2 linked regions of the Homo sapiens genome follow. The protein of the gene in region 1 purifies or fractionates together with the protein of each later gene. This does not show direct contact. Each region holds a gene or a part of one and is shown on either strand. Other genes may lie near its edges.

Evidence for each region.
Region 2: the proteins of DNAJC17 (region 1) and CWF19L1 purify together in Homo sapiens (affinity purification with mass spectrometry; 2 studies listed by BioGRID and IntAct, with this or other methods). This does not show direct contact.

What each region holds. Positions count from the first base shown.
Region 1 is NC_000015.10:40,776,448-40,788,339, reverse strand, and holds part of DNAJC17 (dnaJ homolog subfamily C member 17), read left to right. Parts: intron 1-8,342; coding exon 8,343-8,412; intron 8,413-8,736; coding exon 8,737-8,795; intron 8,796-9,029; coding exon 9,030-9,117; intron 9,118-11,712; coding exon 11,713-11,798; intron 11,799-11,892. UniProt on the Homo sapiens protein: May negatively affect PAX8-induced thyroglobulin/TG transcription.
Region 2 is NC_000010.11:100,248,064-100,259,955, reverse strand, and holds part of CWF19L1 (CWF19-like protein 1), read left to right. Parts: intron 1-3,479; coding exon 3,480-3,694; intron 3,695-6,416; coding exon 6,417-6,535; intron 6,536-9,623; coding exon 9,624-9,708; intron 9,709-11,892.

The sequences.
Region 1 (11,892 bases):
CCTCTTGCTTTGGCCTACCAAAGTGTTAGGATTACAGGCATCAGCCACCATGCCTGGCCAGAGGGGACTTTTAGGCAGGTGCCCAGAGCTCTGTTGTTTGCTTCCTGCGTGTGACATCAGGCAGTCATATACCTCTGGGGTTCCTGCTAGTGAGGGGATGGGGAGGCATCTGCCTCTCCGGGCTTGGGGAGACGTGGCTGCCCCAGCTGTTATCACTCACTGTGCCTGTGACTGGAACTGGGCCTGGCAGTGGGTTTCCAGCTGATTTACCCGGGATGCTTTGTCCATTCAGTGCTTGTTGTCACATAGAGCTGCCTCCCTCTGTGTCCTCCTTATCTAAGTCTAACCTATCAGCCTCGGCCTCTTTACTTGTACCACTTACTTACCTGGCTCCAAGCTTTATTACAAGAAAGGACAGCAACCTTTTAAAAAATAATGATCCCTTCTTTGTAGGGCACCTTTCTTTTAAGTTAATGATGGCTATTTTGTATTTATTGGATCCCTTAGCACTTAGCTTTTTTGGGTGAGTCAGGAGTTCCTTCCCCCATCAAGAGGTGAAACTGGAGGCAGGTGGATGTCAGAGGCCCTGCTGTGTGCTTGCGGCAAAACCCAGTGGAGGTGGCTAGAGACCCAGCTTCCAGCCCTCCTCCCCTGCTCTGGGTTCAGGTTGCTGAAAGTGGTAGAACCGGTTATAGAGCTTCCGGGGAAGGGCTGGGTGGCTGCCAATTTATTATTCATTGTCTGATGTGGGCAATGAGGGGGTAACATTTAGTTCCCACTGTGGTTATCCTGGCAGTCTGCTTTAGTAATTCCTTCCCTTTCCCAGACTTGGTTTTTTAAGAGGAGGTGTTAGCAGGGAGGAGGAGAAATTGTGAAATAGTGGTCAGATCTCCTAGGGTCTGGATGGCACCTACTTCCTTCTGCTCCTCAGTGGGTCTGAAGTAATTGACATAGTTGAGGTTTCCGATTGTGTTTTGGTTGAGAACAAATGAATGTTTGCCAATTCATGCAACAGATATTTATTGTGTGCCTGCTGAATGCCAGGTGCTGTTCACTGTTCTGGACCCTGGGGAGAAGCAGAACTCCCTGCCTCCTAAGTACATCCACTTTATTTGTAAGGGGAACCCCCATACCTTCCTATACCCTTATGCTCTCATTTAAGGTATAGTTATAACCAGCTTATCTGTTTCTCTAGACCATACCAGAAAAGAAGCAGCAGATGAGCAGCACTTCTAGGGAAGGGCTGGCATCTGGCAGTCTAGTAGAGGCCAACTAAGGAAGTAATAGGAAAACTATTAAAAGAGTAGAATTTAAAATCCTCGCCACCTAGGGAAGCAAATGAAAAGCCTGACACCACTCTCCGTAGAACGTGTCATACTATTCAGTAGTTGATGTTCTGGATGATGATCCTGAGACATCAAAAACAGATTAAACTCAACCAGTCTAGGATGGAAAAAGGGTGGTAGACAGTGAGGTTTTTAGAAAGCCATCAGGAGAAAGACCAAGTTTCTGCAAATTGCAGTTCGAAGTACTCACGGAGCTTACATTTATCTGAGATCTTCGTCCTTCTGAGGCTGGGCCTTAGAAAGAGCTTCTCCTCTGAAAAGCCATGATCTGGATGGGGAACTTTGGGTTGGAAACATTTGAACTGTCACCTGGATCCTTTGTGAAGTCTCAGAAATGCAAGTGTTTCTAAGCGCTAGAGAGACCAGGGGATTTAGGGGAAACCTATAGGTAAAGAAGAAAAGCTGCAAGTGAAAAGCCACACCTTGCTGTGGCTGCTTCAGCTCTGCCTCAGTGATCCCAGCACCTGCAGACACAGTTTCTTTCTTTCTCTTTTTAGAGATGGGGTCTTGCTCTGTTGCCCAGGGTGGTCTCAAACTCCTGGGCTCAAGCGATCCTCCCGCCTCACCTTCCCAAAATGCTGGGATTACAGGCGTGAGCCACTGGACCTGGGCCAGAGTCAGTTTCTGGAGGAGCTTCCAACCCGGGATACCTGGCTTTCAGCAGTCCTGTTTATCCTATATCATAAGGAGTAAGATTATAGAGGATGGCCCTTCTATTTCTTGTTCTTCTGAAAGTTCCTCTCCTTCCCAATTTTGTGATAGTTATAAAAAATAATTGTTGTACATTTTTACCCTGAATCTAGCCTTTTGAGCTGTTCATAAGGTAGGATTATTTAATAATAAACAATATTGAGACCGGAAGGTTTTTCAAAGGCCTGCTTTAGGAGAGTTGTGTTTACATGGTGAGAAATTCTTCAGGCAGCAGTCAACTCCAGGAGGGCTGGACAAAGCTGGGAATCTAGTTTGTAGTACAAAGCACCAAATTCTAGGCCAACCGGTTCAAAGTCAAAACTGGTCTTCCAGGCTAAAACCAAGGGATGGGCCCTGCCCAGGGCAGGTTTAACAGTTAAATATAGTAATAACTAGTTAATCAAGACAGACATACTTGACCAACATTCTTAGGCCAGCTGGGTTTTGATTCAAGGCCACTCTGGAAGATCTCAGGCTACCTACCCATCCCTTCTACCCCTTGAATAAGAGTATTTCAGAGACCCTGGGAGTGAACCCAGGATTGAATTTTAGATCTACCCCACAGCAGACTCAAATCCAGCCCTGTCCACCTAGAGAATTCAAATGGAGTTGACCTGCATCCACTGTGGACCAGGGTCCATTCCTGAATTCCTGTCCAATTGGCATCCTGCTGGCCTGGTGTCACAGTTTACCCTCTTCCAGAAGTAGAGGAGAGAAAGGTTTGGGAACTTGTAGGAAGCACCTAGTTTTTGTCAGGTGCTTACACGGATCATTTTCTTTAATCCTTCCAGCAGCCCTGTGTGTAGGATTTATTCTTCTCAGTTTGATGTTGAAGTCCCTAAGGCTGTGTGAGCTTCAGTAATTTGCCCAAGGTCATGCTATCAGTATGTAGAAGATTCCGAATTTGAAAATACATCTGCCAGACTCCAGAACTTGCCCTCTTTTAGTGAACCATGCTGCCTCCTAGCTTAGAATTGTGGAAAGAAGCTAAACAATTTTGTTTTTGTTTCTTACCAGTTTTTTTCTTGTATCACTTGAAAAGTAATACAAGCTTATTATAGAAAGTAAATATCAGCTATAACCCTTTCAGCTGTTTATAAGGTAGGATTATTTAATAATAAACGATACTGAGACTGGAAGCTTTTTCGGGGATATCCCTTTTCTTTCAGAGATGTTGTTGTTGTTGTTGTTTTGTTGTTGTTGTTGTTATGGACTTTCACTCTTCCCTCCCAGGCTGGAGTGCAATGGCATGATCTCGGCTCACTGCAAGCTCCGCCTCCTGGGTTCAAGCGATTGTCCTGCCTCAGCCTCCTGAGTAGCTGGGATTACAGGCTCCCACCACCATGCCCAGCTAATTTTTGTATTTTTAGTAGCGACGGGGTTTCACCATGTTGGCCAAGCTGGTCTCCAACCCCTGACCTCAGGTGATCTGCCCGCCTCAGCCTCCCAGAGTGCTGGGATTACATGTGTAAGCCAACACGCCCGGCCCAGAGATATTTTTATATTTTTGTATTTCCATCTGTTGGGGATGAAAGTCCTAGCCTCCCTGTTTGGCTTTATCTGACACCACTCTGGCAGAGGTTTAGGGTAGCAAGAATGGAAGTCTATGCTCTCTACCTGGCCTTTGATGGCATGGGTGGGGTGGTGTCCACTGTTTTTTCTGTGGTAATTGGCTGGAGTAGAATAGTTTTTGCCTAAAGTAATGTTTGTATGGCTTTTCATTGAATGGATTTTGGGTATCATAATTAACCCTTATGTCACAGTTTCCTCATTTGTAAAATGAGGAGGATAATAATTTCTACCTCATAGGGGCTTTAAGAATTAAATAAGTTAATATATGTAAAGCATATTTGACAATATGAGTGGATTTTTCAGCTTGAATAATTTTATTTTCCTATTACAGTGAAAAACCAAAATTCCAATATAGAACATTCAAAATAAATTATGAAACACAAAAGAATATTTATCATTCCCTTAGAATAAAATTCAGAAAGCATTCTCTCAAAAAAAGGAAAGAAAATGAAGGAGATGCCACTGCTGGACACCCCTTCTGTCTTGCTTTCTTACTGCTCCTTCTTTTTTTTTTTGAGACAGAATTTTATTTTTGTCGCCCAGGCTGGAGTGCAGTGGTGCAATCTCGGCTCACTGCAACCTCCGCCTCCCAGGTTCCTGCCTCAGCCTCCCTAGTAGCTGGGACTACAGGCGTGTGCCACCACGCCCAGCTAATTTTTGTATTTTTGGTAGAGACGGGGTTTTACCACGTTGGCCAGGCTGGTCTCGAATTCCTGACCTCAACTGATTCGCCCGCCTCAGCCTCCCAAAATGCTGGGATTACAGGCGTGAGCCACCACACCCAGCCTGCTCCTTCTTCTTCACACTCACTTCTACTCCCCCTCTCAGATTTATAACAAGGAACATACAAACTTTTATTTTATTTTTTTGAGACAGAGCCTTACTCTGTCACCCAGGCTGGGGTACAGTGACACGATCTCAGCTCACTGAAGCCTCTGCCCCCCGGAATCAAGTGATTCTTCTGCCTCAGCTTCCCCCATAGCTGAGATTACAAGCATGCACCACCACACCCGGCTAATTTTTATATTTTTAGTAGATACAAGTTTCACCATGTTGGCCAGGCTGGTCTCAAACTCCAGACCTCAAGTGATCCACCCACCTCGGCCTCCCACAGCGATGGGATTAGAGGTGTGAGCCACCATGCCCAGCCTAAACCACTTTAAAAGAGCCCCATGATACAAAAGAAAACATCTTCCACAAAACCCCCCTACATCCCTGGGGCAAGCCTACTAGTCCTAGTCCTGAGGAAGTTCATCTTGAAGGTAGTGTTGCAGGTGATGCCATAGATACTGGGACATGGACCGCCTCCCCCTCCCTTCCTCTCACCCATCCCAGAGAGAGGGTGGAGATAGGATCAGAGAGGAGGGGCCCAGAGGCCAGGAACAAACACCCAACAGACTCCTGTCAGTGTGTGTAGGTGCTTTTATATGTGTTAATGAACCTTGATGTCAGAGGGCTGGGGAGATTGAGAAAGAACATCTTTATAATGTTTTTGGTATTGTTTTACTTATTGAAAAAAAGCAAACAGGGGCCCTGAAATATAAAATATGTTCAGTAAAGGAATGAGGCTGGAGGCACAATAAAGCAGGCAAAGAGAGCAAAAGAAAGAAAAGACGAATGATAAGGGACCTAAAAAGTAAAGATGATATATTGCAAAGATGACACTGTCTTAAGCTAGCACCTCCTTTCCCTTAATATTGTTCTTTTTTGTAGTGAAAACAGAGCTAGGCAGGGAGGGTTAGGGTGGGAGGTGAGCAGGCAGGGCAGATGTGCTTCGGTGGGCGATTGGGAAGGCAGGTGGCACGTCTACACCCTCTCTGCCCAGCGCCTGTCCTGGGTGGTTCCTGCTGCCTCCAAGGCAGTCAGGAGAACCAAACAGCTTGGGCTGCCATGGCAGGTGCCCTGGCTATGGCCCAGCAGGTGGCAGCACACCCCTAGAGGTCCTGGGCCCGGTGGCTGCCTCATGGATGGAGGAGTTGCCCAGCAGGTGCTCACCTTGTGGATGCTGGCTGCTTACCTCTGAAAGTCCTTATTTAGCACACTTGGGTGTAGAAGCGTTTCTTGCGTCCATCTTGGAAGCTTAGAAATCCAATCTGCTTAGCTCTTCCTCCAGGAGGTTTGAGCAGCAGGTAACACACACCAAGCAGAAGGGAGAAAGCAAAGGCCTTGGAGGCAGAGGACGGATTCTGGGGTTGTGTACACTGTCTTCACTTACAACAGCTATTAGGTAGCACACGAAAGAGAATCTTGGTAGCTGTGTTTATTTTTACTTATGTAAGAAATATTGGGGTTTCTTTCTTTCTATGTATTTAAGAGAGAGTCTTGCTCTGTCACCCAGGCTGGAGTGCAGTGGCATCATCATAGCTCACGGCAGCCTCAAAATCCTTGGCTGAGGTGATCCTCCCTCCTCAACCTCCTTAGTAGCTGGTACTGCAGGCACGCACCACTATGCCTGGCTAATTTTTTATTTTATTTTAATTTAATTTAAAATTTTTTTATTTTTATTTTTGAGACAAGGTCTCACTCTGTCACCTAGGCTGAAATGCAGTGGTGTGAACATGCTCACTACAGCTTCAACCTCCCGGGCTCCAGTGATCCTCCCACCTCAGCCTCCTGAGTAGGGGGACAAAGGCACATGCTACCACACCTGGCTCATGTTTAAAAAATTTTTGTAGAGATGAGGTCTTGCCATGTTGCCCAGGCTTGGCTGGAACTCCTGGGCTCAAGCGATCCTCTCGCCTCAACCGCCTGAGTAGCTGGGACTACAGGCATGCACCACCACACCTGACAAAAAAAAATTTTTTTTTTTTGAGACAGAGTCTCATTCTGTCTCCCAGGCTGCAGTGCAATGGTGTGATCTCGGCTCACTGCAACCTCTGCCTCCCAGGTTCAAGCGATTCTCCTGCCTCAGCCTCTCGAGTAGCTGGGACTACAGGCGCCCGCCACCATGCCTGGCTAATTTTTTTGTATTTTTAGTAGAGACGGGGTTTCACCGTGTTAGCCGGGATGGTCTCAATCTCCTGACCTCGTGATCCACCTGTCTCGGCCTCCCAAAGTGCTGGGATTACAGGCTTGAGCCACCGCACCTGGACTAAACTCAAAAGTTTATAATAAGATCTATGTCAGAACATGGATACCTCTGTCTACTATAATATTTTATTTAAAAAAAATTTTAATAAGCGTGGCAAATTCCTGAACAAACTTTTTGAAATTTATTTTTTATTATTTTTTTGAGACAAGGTCTCCCTCTGTCACTCAGGCTAGAGTACAATGGCATGATCTCGGCTCACTGCAACCTCCGCCTCTGGGGCTCAAGTGATTCTCCTGCCTCAGCCTCCCAAGTAGCTGGGTCTACAGGTGCACGCCACCATGCCCGGCTAATTTTTGTATTTTTAATAGAGACAGGGTTTTGCTTTGTTGGCGAGGCTGGTCTCGAACTCCTGACCTCAAGTGATCTGCCCACCTCAGCCTCCCAAAGTGCCAGGATTACAGGCATGAGGATTACAGGATTACATGCCAGGATTACAGGATTACACCATGTCTGGCCAATCATAATCTTTTTTTTTTTTTTTTTTTTTCTGAGATGGAGTCTCGCTCTTGTCCCACAGGCTGGAGTGTAGTGGCACAATCTTGGCTCACTGCAACCTCTGCCTCCTGCATGAATCAAGCGATTCTCATGCCTCAGCCTCCCAAGTAGGGGGATTACAGGGGAATATGTCATCACACCCAGCTAATTTTTGTATTTTTAGTAGAGATGGGGTTTCGCCATGTTGGCCAGGCTGGTCTCCTACTCCTGACCTCAAGTGATCCACCCGCCTCAGCCTCCCAAAGTGCTGTGATTACAGGCGTGAGCCACCATGTCCGGCCTCAATCATAATCTTTTATTTTATTTTTTATTTTATTTTATTTTATTTTATTTGAGACAGAGTCTTGCTCTGTCGCCAGGCCGGAGTGTAGTGGTGCGATTTCGGCTCACTGCAACCTCCGCCTCCTCGGTTCAAGCGATTCTCCTGCCTCAGCCTCCCAAGTAGCTGGGATTACAGCTGCCCGCCACTATGCCTAGCTAATTTTTGTATATTTAGTAGAGATGGAGTTTCACTATGTTAGTGAGGCTGGTCTCAAACTCCTGACCTCAGGTGATCTGTCCACCTCAGCCTCCCAAAGTGCTGGGATGACAGGCGTGAGCCACCGCACCGGCCAATCATAATCTTTTAAATGAGTCTCCCCGTTGATGGGGATCTTGGCTGGCTAGTATCAACAGTGTTGTAGAGAGCATCCTTGTATATTTATTTTTGCCATACTTCTACAAGTCCAGATTCCTAGGACTTGGGTCAAAGGGAAAGAACATTTTAAATTTTGATGGCTGAATTTTCTTCCAGATAGGTTGCCCCAGTTTATATGCCCACCAAGAATGTGTAGAGTACCTGTCTTCGAGTGGCTGTCGAGAAAGCGGGGTACTGTGCTCCTGCCTGTTGCAGCAGCCCCTGGACATCTGCAGTGGTGAGGTTGAGCACTTAGCAGGAGGTGGGCCCAGCTCCTGTGCTGGGCGACAGTGGCTCACTCCCTCCATGGCCTTGGCCTCCTCCATTGCCAGTCTCCCTGGTGGCTAGGAAGTGGGCGCCAGCAGCTTCTCTTTTAGGTGTGCATGGGATTCCCCTTACCCATTGAGCAAGGTTTTCCTGTTTGTCCCTGGGATGAGAGTGAATGGCCATGTCTTCTGTCTGACTCTTCCAGGTAAAGAAGGCGTATAGGCAGAAGGCCCTCTCCTGCCACCCAGACAAAAATCCAGATAATCCCAGAGCAGGTGAGACTCTTCTCAGGGCGTGGGGAGAAAGAAACCCACTCACCCGGGCATTGTGTTTCCCGATGTAAGCTCTGCATGTGAGTGCTGTGGGGTGTAAGCACACATTGCCTGGCTCCAGGCAATGGGTCCCAGGGCTTCCCTCCTGTGAGGGGTGTCTGGTCAGTTGCTGATATGCTCACCCCTCCTTGTTGGTCTGTCATCTGCTGATGTCGGCTTGTCTGCCATCCTGTGACTTCTTTGAAGATTTTTTTTTTTTTTGAGGGAGCACACCATTACGAAGTCTTAACTTTATTTTTCTTCTGTCTTTTTGATCCTTATGTTTAGCTGAACTCTTCCACCAGCTTTCTCAGGCCTTGGAGGTGCTGACCGATGCTGCAGCCAGGGTAAGCACAGCCTCCTTCATCGGAATCGTCCCCCATGGTTAGAGACCACTGCTGCCTCTCAACCTCGGTCCTCTGCCCTTTGCCATGTGGCACAGTCCTTGCTGTCTAAGCCCAGGAGACCCAGTCACCAGGCTGCCACTCTGATGGCTCGTGGGCTAGGGGCCAGGCAGATTGCCGGGGCTCTGTCTTTACTCTCTCACTGACCCTCTGCCCTGTGCCCCTTTCTCCTGCCAGGCTGCATATGACAAGGTCAGGAAAGCCAAGAAGCAAGCAGCAGAGAGGACCCAGAAACTTGATGAGAAAAGGAAGAAAGTGAAGCTTGGTAGGTGCCATCATAGTGCTCGGTGGCCTGTGGTTTCCTGTGGTCATTTTCATTCATCTCCCTCACCTGAAGCTTCACTTCCAGCAACTCATCTCAAAGCCTTTTGGCTCAGGCTCTGGGCAAAACGCTGTTCTTAGAGGTTGGTTCCTAAAGACACTCTTAGGAATAATAACAATAATAAGGTTTAATATTAGCTAAGCATTGTGACAAATGCCTTATTGTCCCTTTAATTATCATAACTATACAAGGAAGTGTGGGTACTAAACCTTTTTTAAGAACATGGTTTTTTGAGACAGGGTCTCACCCTGTCACCTAGGCTGGAGCGCAGTGGCATGATCTCGGCTCACTGCAACCCCCACCCTCTGGGTTCAGGCGATTCTTGTGCCTCAGCCTCACGATAGTGGGACTACAGGCATGCACCACTACGCCCGGCTAATTTTGTTCCGTTTTTTTAGAGATGGAGTTTCACCATGTTGGCCAGGCTGGTCTTAAACTCCTGGCCTCAAGCTATCCACCTCAGTCTCCCAAAGTGCTGGTATTACAGCTGGTGAGCTGCCGCACCTGGCCTCTGAAGCCATTTTTTATAGGCAAAGGAGCTAAGGCACCAAAAGTTTAAGAGCTTGCTGGAGGTGGGATTTAAACTTATCCAGTGTGAGTAAAATTGGTGCTTGTGGCCGGGCGCGGTGGCTCACGCCTGTAATCCCAGCACTTTGGGAGGCCGAGGCGGGTGGATCACGACGTCAGGAGTTCGAGACCAGCCTGGCCAAGATGGTGAAACCCCTTCTCTACTAAAAATACAAAAATTAGCTGGGTGTGGTGGCGGGTGCCTGTAATCCCAACTACTCGAGAAGTTGAGGCAGAGAATTGCTTGAACCCGGGAGGCAGAGGTTGCAGTGAGCTGAGATCACGCTGCTGTGCTCTAGCCTGGGTGACAGAGCAAAACTCCATCTCAAAAAACAAAACAAAACAAAAAAATTGGTGCTTGTATTCACCATTTCTGGCTGAGTCTTCTTCTTCTTTTTTTTTTTTTTAAAGAAAGACGGGGTTTTGTACTGTCACCCAGGCTAGGGTGGCACCATCATGGCTCACTGCAGCCTCAAACTCCTGGGCTCAAGCAGTCCTTCTGCCTTGGCCTCCTGAGTAGCTGGGACTACAGGTGCGAGCCGCTGTGCCCGGCTGGGTCTTTTAATTTGTTCTAACCCCAATTCCTACCCAGACTTTTCACTTTGAGAAGCTCCCTCAGAAGGATTCAAAGAGGTCCAGGCTTTCTCTTCTCTAATAGCTTTATTGAGGTATTCTTTGTATATCACAACATCAACCCATTTCAAGTGTACACTTCAATGATTTTTCGTAAATTTACTAAATGATGCAACTCTGACTATAAATCAGATTTGGAACATTTTCATCAACCCAATAAGATTGCTGCAAGCATTTTTTTTTTCTCACTTAAAAAAAAGTCACTGGTTATAGCAGCATGGTCCAAGCACTCTTTTTTTTTTTTTCTTAAACGGAGTTTCGCTCTTGTTGCCCAGGCTGGAGTGCAGTGGCACGATCTCGGCTCACTTCAACCTCTGCCTCCTGGGTTCAAGCGATTCTCCTGCCTCAGCCTCCCGAGTAGCTGGGACTAAGTTGCGCACCACCACACCCGGCTAATTTTTGTATTTTTAGTAGAGACGGAGTTTTGCCACATTGGCCAGGCTGGTCTCGAACTCCTGACCTCAGGTGATCCACCCCTCTTGGCCTCCCAAAGTGCTGGGATTACAGGCGTGAGCCACCGCGCCTGGCCCAGTCCAAGCATTCTTTACTCAAGTTTCTCCTTTTCCTCTTGCTCTTCAACATCCATATATTTTAATATGTGCATATAGCATCCCAATATCTATTTCTATATTAAAAGAAAAGCAAGTGCCAGGAGACCCCATCTCAAAAAAAAAAAAAAAAAAAGAGAGAGAGAGAAAAGGAGAGTCTAAGTAAGTAAAGTGCACAAACTTCTCTGGACTAAGAGAAGGGTTTCTCACAGCAGCTGGCCTGGCACATGGTTGCAAGCAGGTTTCTCTTGGAAGGTAACGCCCTCACACAATCCAGGACCCGGGGTGATGCCCTAACACTCTGCCCATCCCTGTAGCCAGGTCCACAGTGAGGCTTGGTAAATGTGAGTTGAGGTGGGAGGTAAAGGAGACAGTGAGAACCTGAGCTCAGTGTGTGAAAAGAATCAAAGCCAAAGCAAGTCAAGCTGTGGTGCCAAACCACAGGAATCGAGCCCAGCAGCTCCGCCCATTGGCACCCCTGACACATGGCCCTGGGCTGCTGACATAAGCACCACCCACACCCTGTTCACTAGAGAGAACCAGCTTGGTCAGTGTGAGCTGTTTTTAACTCTTCCAGACCCCTGGCCACTCTGCTAGACCCCATACTTCTGTGCTGTGATTTTTCTCAATGGAAATTGACTCGGGGGCGTGGGCATGGAGGGAGGGGGCAGAGTTACTGTATGATCTCGTCGTGATTGAGACTTTGGGGAGGCAGCCAGAGCTGGGGTGGGCCGAGGCCACATGGAAACTGAACAGACCAGCAGTCTGGTCATTCAACCCTTGTGTCTAGACCTGGAGGCCCGGGAGCGGCAGGCCCAGGCCCAGGAGAGTGAGGAGGAAGAGGAGAGCCGGAGCACCAGGACACTAGAGCAAGAGGTGAGCACTCAGGCACACTGGCCAGAAGGCCACCTGCAGGAGGAGGAGGTGGGGGAGGATGGACCTGGTGGTCGCCGTGGCTAGAGAGGGCATG
Region 2 (11,892 bases), on another chromosome or scaffold:
TTACCTCGTGATCCGCCCACCTCGGCCTCCCAGAGTGCTGGGATTACAGGCGTGAGCCACCGCGCCTGGCCGATATTTGTTGTATTTGTAATGAACATAATATAGTGTTCTCAGGAATTAGTCTCCCAGGAAATTTTTGGCTAGATTTTTCAGTGATTGCAGCCTGAGATAATGGGGTTTGGAGGGTTTTTTCCCAGAGTCTGTATATGTGCTGCTGTGCCCTTAGGACAATGCCTTTAGGACAGTGGCATTTTTTCTTTATTATTTCTACCACTTAGCCCCAATATCGTTGCGTTCCCACAACCCGGTACACACTTGTTTAGCCAACTGGAGGGATAAACTCCTTGTCTATAGTATATGGGATACTTAAGGTATAAATTATGTTCACACAAAGGAAATTTCATGTATGTGGCTTTACCATACAATCTTGCTAGGTATATACAGCTTACTTGTTAATGAGCCTCCCAACTATTTATAGCTCTAGGTTTCACTCTAAGGTTTTGGCAACTCAGGTTTTTAGTGCTGTTCTTTGGGGGCTTTTTACTCTTTTTTTACTCTCCTTTTTCTGGTTCTAGGTACACTCTTCAGTTCCAGCTTAAAGTTGTTTCCTCCACAGCCCTCTGTATTGCTTTTAGTGGCTCTTTCAATGTCTGGCTGTTTTCAAAAGCACTGTCAAATTTTGCTTTTGTTTTCCCCCCACCTGCTGGCAGTCTGCTGCCTCTTAGATCATTCAACTCTTTTTTTTTTTTTTTTTTAAGACAGTGTCTTGCTCTGTTGCTCAGGCTGGAGTGCAGTGGCATGATCTCGGCTTACTGCAACATCCGACTCCCTGGTTCAAGTGATTCTCCTGCCTCAGCCTTCCGAGTAGCTGGGATTACAGGCACGCACTACCATACCCAGCTAATTTTTGTATTTTTAGTAGAGACGGGATTTCACCATGTTGGCCAGGATGGTCTCGATCTCCTGACCTGGTGACCCGCCTGCCTCAGCCTCCCAAAGTGCTGGGATTACAGGTGTGAGCCACTGTGCTCGGCTTTTTTTTTTTTTTTTAGTTGAATTTACTATTCTTCACATTTCCTCCTTGTTGGTCTTATTTCTCTAGAAAACTTCTTCATTTCCTTTGCTGTAAATGTCCTCTCTCTCCTTCCCCATCATAGTTCATCTTGGCCTTTAGTCTTTATTTGGCTATGGCCCTCCCGTTACCAGTCTTATTTTGCACTAATCCTGTGGGACTTCTTTAAGCAAAAATTGAAGGAAGGACTTTATTTGTTTTGTTGTTTTAATATGGAACTCTTCATGAATTTGCATGTCATCCTTGTGCAGGTGCCGTGCTAATATTCTCTTTATCTTTCCAGTTTTAGTATATGTGCTGCTGAAGTGAGCACTGTTTAGTTTTAACTACACATATCAGATACGCATTTTGAAATTCTGTTGTAGATTTTAACATGAGCCTGACTTATGCAGTTCTTGGTATAGTTTGTAGATTTGGATTAAGGGCATTACTGTAGATATTTGGCAGCCATTTTACTATATGAATTTAGTGCCAGGAAAGGAAAGAGCAGCTAAGGTACTTGGGTTATTTCTGTGAAATAGATTTTTTGGATCCAGTAGGAGGATCAAGCAGTGAACTTGGTAGTGAACATGTGATAGTGAGCTTGAAATACTGGTAGGACATCCAACATATAGTTGGAAGTGAGAGTTATTATTATTATTTTTTGAGATGGACTTTCGCTCTTGTTGCCCAGACTGAATTGCAATGGCATAGTCTTGGCTCACTGCAACCTCTGCCTCCCGGATTCAAGCGATTCTTCTGCCTCAGCCTCCTGAGTAGCTGGGGTTACGGGTGTGTGCCACCATGCCCGGCTAATTTTGTATTTTTTAGTAGAGACAGGGTTTCACCATGTTGGTCAGGCTGGTCTCGAAATCCTGACCTGAGGTGATCCAGCTGCCTCAGCCTCCCAAAGTTCTGGGATTACAGGCATTAGCCACTGTGCTGGTCCGAGAGTTCTTTCTAGAGTATCAGTGTTGAAGAGTATAGGCTTTGGAGAGTTGGTCCCATAATGATGAAAAATAGAGCTGAGAAGAGGATCAAATTATTAAGGAAGAAATACAATCAGAAGGGAAGCAGGTTGATGATAGTACCTTGGTGGGTGGGGATGGTATATCTTCATCTAGGGGGTAGGAACAAAGACATAAAAGTGCTTAGAGGACTGTTTGAGAGGTAAAGATATTGTCAACTTCATGGAATCTACTGAAGATAACATAGTTTCAGGAGAACATTGGCAAATATAGGGTGACCTTTAAGAGAGTGATGGGAGAGGGAAACTGATTGCAGGGGGTTAAGGAACTAATAAAGTAGGCTGGGCGTGGTGGCTCACACCTGTAATCCTAGCACCTTGGGAGGTCGAGGTGGGCAGTTCACGAGGTCAAGAGGTTGAGACCATCCTGGCCAACATGATGAAACCCCATCTCTACTAAAAATAGAAAAATTAACTGGGCATGGTGGCGGTCACCTGTAGTCCCAGCTACTTGGGAGGCTGAGGCAGGAGAATCACTTGAACCCGGGAGGCGGAGGTGGAGGTTGCAATGAGCCAAGATTGCGCCACTGCACTCCAGCCTGGCAACAGAGCGAGACTCCATCTCAAAAAAAAAAAAAAAAAAAAAAAAAGGTAAAGCACTTAGCATGGATGACTCTTCAGAAATTCAAAACTGAAGAGGAGGAAGTTTCTTAGTATGTGTGTTCATTTTGGATGGCGATGATTGAGCATATTTTTTTCTGAACAAAAAGCGCCAGCTGAGTAGACTCAGTAGATGAAAGGGAAGTGAAAATTGATGGAGCAAGGTCTTGAAGGCAACAGGAGGGAATGGAAACAAGGCCACAAGCCAGGAATAACCATAGAAGAGAGTGGCGTCTTAAATTTTTCCTAAACACTTGTTCTTTCCAAATGTTTTCCTTCACTTGGAAGTTGCTGCCTGCCTCCAAGTAGCTGGGACTACAGGCACACGCTGCCATGCCTGGCTAATTTTTTGTATTTTAGTAGGGATGGGGTTTCACTATGTGCATCTTTTCTAGACTGTAGCTTCCTTAGAACTGTATTTTTCTTCGCATTGCCTTTTCCTGTGTCCAGATGTCTGCATTTAAGTCCATGTAGAATCTTCTCTAGAACGCAGAAAGCCTTTTCCCTAATCTTCTCTTCCCAACTTTTTCCAGTAATATTTGTAAGGCACCTGGCATAAACATACTGGCCCGTGGGCTCCAGCAGCCTCCACGTAGGGCTGTTCATATTTACTGAGCAGGAATACTGTTGTAGCCATTCACCATTGATGCCTAGCAGCCAGAAGGGAGCTGCTGGAGAGTTTACACTTCAGACATGTAAAATGGCAGGGACATAGGAGAGTCATGGGAGATTCATCCCCCTATTGATGGCTTTTCATTCTGCAATTCTGACTAAAATTTGTTCATTTTTCTTTGAACCCAGGTCGTAAAGGTATCTTCACTGGAAGCTCGGGGCTGCAGATTGTGTACCTCAGTGGGACAGAATCCTTAAATGAGCCAGTACCAGGTTATAGTTTTAGTCCCAAGGATGTGTCTTCTCTGAGAATGATGCTGTGTACAACCTCCCAGTTTAAGGGTGTTGATATCTTGCTCACATCCCCATGGCCCAAGTGTGTGGGGAACTTTGGGAATTCTTCTGTGAGTAGTGTTTGTTTAGTTGGAATTTCTAAAAGCAAATTGCACTGGCTTGAGTTGGGACTTTTTTCTTTTCCTGTTTATATTGAGTATTTTAGCTCTTGGGTACCTTTTATTAGAAGTCTTCTGTGAAAATTTTCAGGATTCTAAAAGTTCTGTCAACTGATCAAAGCAAAAGTTAATTTCATGAAAGTGTGATTCATAGATGAGACTGCTGAAATCTTAATTATAAAGGAATGGTTTTTTATATTCTCTGCTTCAAGTGCCCTTTCCTAAGCCTCTTAATGTTTTGAGGCTTCACTGATTTTTTTGTTTTTTGTTTTTTGTTTTTTTTTGAGATGGAGTCTCACTCTGTCGCCCAGGTTGGAGTGCAGTGGTGCGATCTTGGCTCACTGCAACCTCCTCCTCCCGGGTTCAAATGATTCTCCTGCCTCAGCCTCCTGAGTAGCTAAGATTATAGGCATGCGCCACCACGCCTGGCTAATTTTTTTTTTTTTTTTTTGAGATGGAGTTTTGCTGTGTCACCCAGGCTGGAGGGCAGTGGCGCCATCTCTGCTCACCACAACCTCTGCCTCCTGGGTTCAAGCAATTCACCTGCCTCAGCCTCCCAAGTAGCTGGGACTATAGGCGCACACTGCCATGCCTGGCTAATTTTTTGTATTTTATTAGAGATGGGGTTTCAGCATGTTGCCCAGGCTAGTCATGAACTCCTGAGCTCAGACAATCTGCCTGCCTCGGCCTCCCAAAGTGCTGGGATTACAGGCGGATTTTTTTGTATTTTTAGTAGAGATGGGATTTCACCATGTTGGCCAGGCTGGTCTCAAACTCCTGACCTCAAGTAATTTGCCCACCTCAGCCTCCCAAAATGCTGGGATTACAGGCATGAGCCACCGTGCCCAGCCTAATTTTTGTATTTTTAGTAGAGACAGGGTTGCCCAGGCTGGTCTTGAACTCCTGCGCTCTAGTGATCCACCCGCCTTGGCCTCCCAAAGTGCTGGGATTACAGGCGTGAGCCACCATACCTGGCCAGATTTTAATATTTTATGAGTAATCTTGAAAAGGATGGTACACCAGGAGTGACAACTATCATGGGGAGTGAAACGCTACACTGGTGGAAGTAAGCCTAAGGAAGATTTTGAAAAGGTTATGTGTGAGGGCAGAAAACACTGGGTGAGCTTCATTGAAGGGAAATGTAAGAATGCATTTGGGAACAAATCTCCATGGTTGGATTCAGGATTATCAGTGATGATCCAGAAGTGGAGCCTGTATACCACCCCTTGCCAGTTTCAGCACCATGTGTCCATGACCAAAAAGGCCAACAGGATACCAGGCATTATCAAGGAGGATGCTCTCTTCCTTTTTGACAAACCCATGATTACTCTTTACGTAGAATACAAGGCATAGAGCTGGTTGGAGCACAAGGATATAGCAAAGCTAGGGAAGATCGAGAGAAGGGCTGCTAAAGTGATGAAGGAAGAGAGAAAGACACATATGATGCTCTGTAAGGAAGGATGAGAAAATGAGGCCCCTTTGTTTTGCGGGGAGCTAAAAATTGATTTTGATCAAGGCTTATAAATAACCATACAGTATATTTATGGAGGAGAAAAGTATAGTTCACCAGTCCCTAAGATGCTAGGACTGACCTCAAAGCTAATTCCCTGCCCTTCAGCAGAAACCTGAAGGAAACAAGCATAAGACAAAAGGAAATTCCTGCTTTACGTAGTGGAAAACAAACTTTGTTAGCTTATTTCCAAGTAATACCTTCTCTTAGAATAGAGTTCATAAATAATGCTGTGGGTGAGAGATCACTTAATTGGTTGTTAACAGAATCTGGGGATGTTCTGGGAGCAAGAATAACTTTGAGCAAACTTCATATTACTTAAGAAGGGTGTGGTTATGCCCTTCCTCAAACTGCCACTTCCTTGACTGAAGCAAAATAAAGGATTATATGCTGGTGATGAAGTCCTTGAATACTCTATACCAGATATTCTGTGGATCCTAGGAGCCCTGAAGCCTAGCTTTTCGCTTTGATTTTCTGAATTGACTATGACTGTCTGGACCCGTGAACTACAGATGCACTACGTAACAAACTAGAGGCTGGGCGCAGTGGCTCACGCGTGCACTTTGGGAGGCTGAGGCGGGCGGATCACGAGATCAGGAGTTTGAGACCAGCCTGGCCAACATGGTGAAACCCCGTCTCTACTAAAAATACAAAAATTAGCCAGGTGTGGTGGCACGTGCCTGTAATCCCAGCTACTAGGGAGGCTGAGGCAGGAGAATCACTTCTTGAACCCAGGATGCAGAGGTTGCAGTGAGCCGAGATTGTGCCACTGTACTCTAGCAGCCTGGGTGACAAAGCAAGACTCCATCTCAAAAAAAAAAAACAAACCAAAACTAGAAGCCCAGTCTGTGGGCTCCAGAGGGAGAGCTTACTTTCCAAAAAAGGTTTTAATAATTTGTGTTTTGGGTATTGATATGGAGGAGTTACCTTTTAATCTCTGGCTTCCAACAGTTGTTCCTATTTCTACATTCATAGTAGTTCAGCTCCCTTATTTGTTAAGATTTTTTCTCTGATTGCCATACTTATGAAATTCAATGTGCAGTTCCTTCTGTCCACATCTGTATTCATGTATAAATTTCAAAGACATTTCAAAATGTCTTATTATTTATTTGCATTTCTTGATAACTTTTGGTCTGTATGGATGACTAAGTTTTTGTTTACTAGGGAGAAGTGGATACCAAAAAATGTGGTTCTGCTTTGGTTTCCAGTCTTGCCACGGGCTTGAAACCAAGATACCATTTTGCTGCTTTGGAAAAGACCTATTATGAGAGGCTTCCATATCGGTGAGTAGCATTTCATTCTTCTTGGCTTTTTGAAGAATTTGCCATGGATCTTCTGTATAAACTTCTCTTGTTCGTTTTTAACCATATAACATCTTGGTTCCATTTGGTTACTCAGACACTGAAGTAAGTGACTCTCAAGTCATTCATCTTCTCTGAGTTTGTTCCCTAATTTGAAATCACTTTGGAAATCCTTCAGTTTCAGAATCAAGAACTTGTATCAGTTTTTTCCTTTTCAGGGCCAGGCATGATGGTGTGTGTCTGTGGTTCCAGCTACTTGGAAGGCTGAGGCAGGAGGCTCGCTCGAGCCCAGGAGTTCAAGACTATAGTGTGCAATGACTACGCCTGTGAATAGCCACTGCACTCTAGCCTGGGCAACATAGGGAGCCCCATTTCTTTAAAAAATTTTTTACCACAAATAAATATGAGATAATGTATATGTTAATTAGCTTGATTTAGCCATCCCACAGTATATACACATTTCAAAACAGCATGTTGTATACAATAAAAAATACAAATTTTAGTTATCAATTAAAAATAAATGAGAGGGAAAATTTAAAAAATTTTTTTTTGTCTTTTTTTTTTTTTTGAGACGGAGTCTCGCTCTGTCACCTGGCTGGAGTGCAGTGGCATGATCTCGGCTCACTGCAACCTCCGCCTCCTGGGTTCAAGTGATTCTCCTGCCTCAGCCTCCTGAGTAGCTAGGATTACAGGTGCGTGCCACCACGTCCGGCTAAGTTTTTTTGTATTTTTAATAGAGACGGGGTTTCACCATGTCAGTCAGGCTGGTCTTGAACTCTTGATCTCATGATCTGCCCACCTCAGCCTCCCAAAGTGCTGGGATTACAGGCGTGAGCCACCATGCCCAGCCAAGAAAATATTTTTTTTTATTTTTTTTCTTTTGCACTCAGAGGTGGAGTTTTTATTTTTTTAATTTTTGGGGGTACATAGTAGCATAGTAGGTATATAGAGGTCAAGTTCTTTTTTTTGAGACAGAGTCTTGCTCTGTCGCCCAGGCTGGAGTGCAATGGCATGATCTCGGCTCACTGCAACCTCCGTCTCCCAGGTTCATGCCATTCTCCTGCCTCAGCCTCCTGAGTAGCTGGGACTACAGGCGACCGCCACCACACCTGGCTAATTCTTTGTATTTTTAGTAGAGACAGGGTTTCACCGTGTTAGCCAGGATGGTCTCGATCTCCTGATATAGAGGTCAAGTTCTTAAAGAATATACTGCCAAGAAAACCAGTGTTTTACAAGTGAGAGAGTTAAGTAAAAGCTCAGAATTATCTTCACTGATAAAGGGCATGGATTATCCCTAAAATAACTTCTTTCCCTTCTTTTTTACAAAAGTAATATTTACGTGTTGCTAGTTAAAAAAATTTAAGTGAGCAAGAAGAGAATACCCCCCTTACCATAATCCCACAGCCTAATGCAGAATCATAGGTAATACAGGTTTTTCTGTTAAATCTCCATATACTCATTCTAGAAGAATGTCTTGTTCTCTAAAAATATACTGCGAAAACAGAAGTTTTGGGAACAAGCCACTCAAAACTTACACAGTTCTTAAGAATCGGAATACAGTTTTTCATAGAACATATAAAAATGGCCAATAGGGCTGGGTGTGGTGGCTCACGCCTGTAATCCCAGCACTTTGGGAGGCCGAGGCAGGCAGATCATGAGGTCAGGAGATCGAGACCATCCTGGCCAACACGGTGAAACCCTGTCTCTACTAAAAATACAAAAAATTAGCTGGGCATGGTGGCGGGCGCCTGTAGTCCCAGCTACTTGGAAGGCTAAGGCAGGAGAATGGCATGAACCCGGGAGGTGGAGCTTGCAGTGAGCAGAGATCGCGCCACTGCACTCCAGCCTGGGCAACAGAGTGAGACTCCGTCTCAAAAAAAAAAAAAAAAAAAAAAAAGGCCAATAGACATATAAAAAGATGCTCTTATCATTAGCCATTATGGTAATGTAAATCAAAAGCACAATGATACACCACTTCATACCCACTAGGATGGCAGTAGTCAAAAAGGCAAATACATAATAACAAGTGTTGACAAGGATGTGGAGGAATTGGAATCCTCACACATTGCTGGTGAGAGTGTAAAATGGTGCAGCCGCTTTGGAAAACTGTTTAGCAGTTCTTGAAAGGTTAAATGTAAGAGTCAGCAGCATGGTAACGGCAATTTTATTCCTGTCCCAAGATAAGGGAAAACATATGTCCACACAAAAACTTGTACACAGATGATCATAATAGCATTATTCATAATAGCTCAAAATGCAAACAACCCAAATGTCCATCACCTGGTGAATGGGTAAATTAAAAGTGGTAAATATATGATGAAATGTTATTTGGCAAGGAAAAGCAATGAAGTACTGACATGTGCTACAACATGGTTGAACCGTGAAAACTTTATGTTAAGTGAATGAAGCCAGACACAAAGGACTACATTTTTTTTTTTTTTAATTTTTTTTTTTTGAGACAAGATCTCATTCTGTCTTCCAGGCTGGAGTGCTGAGGTACTATCAAGGCTCACTGCAGCCTCAACCTCGTGGGCTCAAGTGATTCTCCTACCTTAGCCTCCTGAGTAGCTGGGACTGTAGGTATGCACCACCATGCCCAGTTAATTAAAAAATTTTTTTTGTAGAGACAGAGTCTCACTGTGTTGCCCAGGGTGTTCTCAAACTCCTGGGCTCAAGCAGTCCTCCTGTCTCAGCCTCCCAAAGTGCCTGGCCTATTTTAGCTTTTTATTACACAAAAGAAGAGGCAATAGTAAAGTGAAACCTCATGTGTCCATCACTTAGCTTGAACTATTGTCAACATTTTGCCAATTTTACAACTCTTTTAAAGCCAAAAGTTGGAGTTTTGATGGTTTCTGAAGACATAATCTCATCTCTTCCTAAAACAGCCTTGTGAGGTAGGGATTGTTGCCCTATTAGACGGATAGATAGTAACTTATCTGAAATCATTTGACTGGCGATGATGAACTGAGGACCTCTGCTCTTTTTATGGCCCCATAGAGTCCACATATTTTGTCATTGCAAATCAAAAGTAAAATTGTTTGCAATTTTTTGTCTCTCAAATATGTTGTAGAAACCATATCATTCTACAGGAAAATGCACAGCATGCCACCCGGTTTATAGCTCTGGCAAATGTTGGAAATCCAGAAAAGAAAAAGGTAAAGATTTACCTATTTGGTGGAAGGTTGATATTCATGGTCTGCCTGATAAATGTATCTCTTGTCCAGTTTAGCATTCAGATCTTCTCTTCTCCCTGACTGCAAGGTCTCAGCAGTTTCGGAGACTCCTTTGTAAAGGTATGGTAATGAAAGGTCAAGTCTCTTTGGGTCTTTTTGTAGGAGAGTTTAAAGAAGGGTTTGGGAAAATAGGCCCAGAGGAATAAAGGCAAAATATCAAATGAACAGTGTTCCTTTACTTCCACATCTATGTGGTTGTCTCTATGGGTATTTGTGAATTTGCCCTCAGATGCTTGCTTACTTCTTTAGCAACTTCATTTAGCTGAAATAAGAAAACCCCAAAGAGCTGGGCATGGTGGCCCACGCCTGTAATCCCAGCACTTTGAGAGGCTGAGGTGGGCGGATCACTTGAGGCCAGGAGTTTGAGACCAGCCTGGCCAACATGGTGAAACCCCATCTCTATAAAAAATAAAAAAAATTAGCCAGGTGTGGTGGGGGGCACCTGTAATCCCAGCTACTCAGGAAGCTGAGGCAGGAGAATTGCTTGAATGTGGGAGGTGGAGACTGCAGTGAGCTGAGATCGGGCCACTGCACTCCAGCCTGGGTGACAAAGTGAGACTCTGTCTCGGGAAACAAAAAAAAAGAAACCCAGAGGACTTACCTAAGCTCTCCTTAGGGCTAAGATTTCCTGAGGGAAATCTTAGTGATACCTGGAATCTATCTTTGTATTGGAAAACAGTGCAGTTGATGAAAAGAATATACCAGAAAAATAGGTTGTTTTTCTCACTTCTCTGAGAGTATTTCTGATTTCCCAGGGCCAAAACTAACCTATTGTGGATTGAGACAGCTAAAATAAGAACAGTTAGTGAAGTGGGAAAATAGGCAGATAAAGAGTCTGAAGATTATTCCACTATCACATGCCATAGACAATGCATACAAAAGATAAGCAAATCGATATTTTGTTTTTTTCATAATATTTCAAGCTTTTTTTGGGGGAGGGGGCGGATCTGAAGTGATTTTGCCTTTATTTCCTTCACTTTAAGCCAATCATGAAATTTCATAGTGATTTCTAGGGTTGGGGCAGAAGGAAGACAGTGTTAAGAATCATCAGGGCTGTGGCCCAGTTGGCCTGCGGAGGTGCAGGCAGGGTGGCCCCTCAGGGGCAGCTGGAGGAGCATGGACTGCCCCGCTGGCAGGGAGCTGATGTTCCCAGAGTATAAGAGCTGGAATGTGATGTCCTCCACAGCTTCCAGCTTGCGCAGCTCTATCAGGCTGTTCCCTGCGGTGGCCAGTGAGTTGGCGATCAGCTCTGCTGCCTTGGAATCGCCCTCAGCAGAGATGATGGCTGCCTTTTTCTGCTGCTCAGCCTTTTCTGCCACAAATCTGGTGCTCTCTGCTTCCCGCTGAGCCACCTGTTTGGCTTCCACTGCTTCTGTGAACTCCTTCCCGAAGGTCAGATGTGTCAAGGACACGTCATCCAGGATGAGCCCAAAGGTGGCTGCTTGCTCTGTAAGGTCGTTGCTCATCTGCCTGGAGACCAGCTCTCTTTAGGTGATTAGTTCTCCAGCATCAAAGTGAGCCACCACTGACTTGAGGATCTCAGTAGTGATGGACAGCAGCACACGCTTATCATAATCCTCTTCAATGCTGGTCAAGATGCGAGGAAGCTGGCTAGCGACAGGCCCCCATGTGCACCGTGATGTTGACATTCTGTAAATCTTTGCTATCAGTGATGACTGGCACATTACATGGTCAAGAACAGCAGTCAAAGATAATAGGTTTGTGTACCCATGGAATGAGAAAGTGAGTCCCTTCCCGTACCACAGTGTTCTGTACTCCATGGAATCGGTCAAAGATGACAGCTCTTTGCTCAGCATCCACATTATATAGGGCAGAGTTCACCACGTCTCCTGCAACAGCTAAGGCCAGGCCAAACTTGCCAACGGACTCAAAACACTTTGGCAGCCATGTTTTCTTCTGCTGGACCCTTTCATACCTGCTTCCACTCTGACCTCCACATAAATTCCCCAGCCTATTTTCAGCTTTTTTGCCCAATTCTTAGCAAATGTAGATTTGTAATTTTTCTTTTAATTGCCCTTTCAAACTGAATAACACTTAGTATTTTCAGTCTGTTTTATTCTCAGGGACATGTTAGCCTCAGCCATA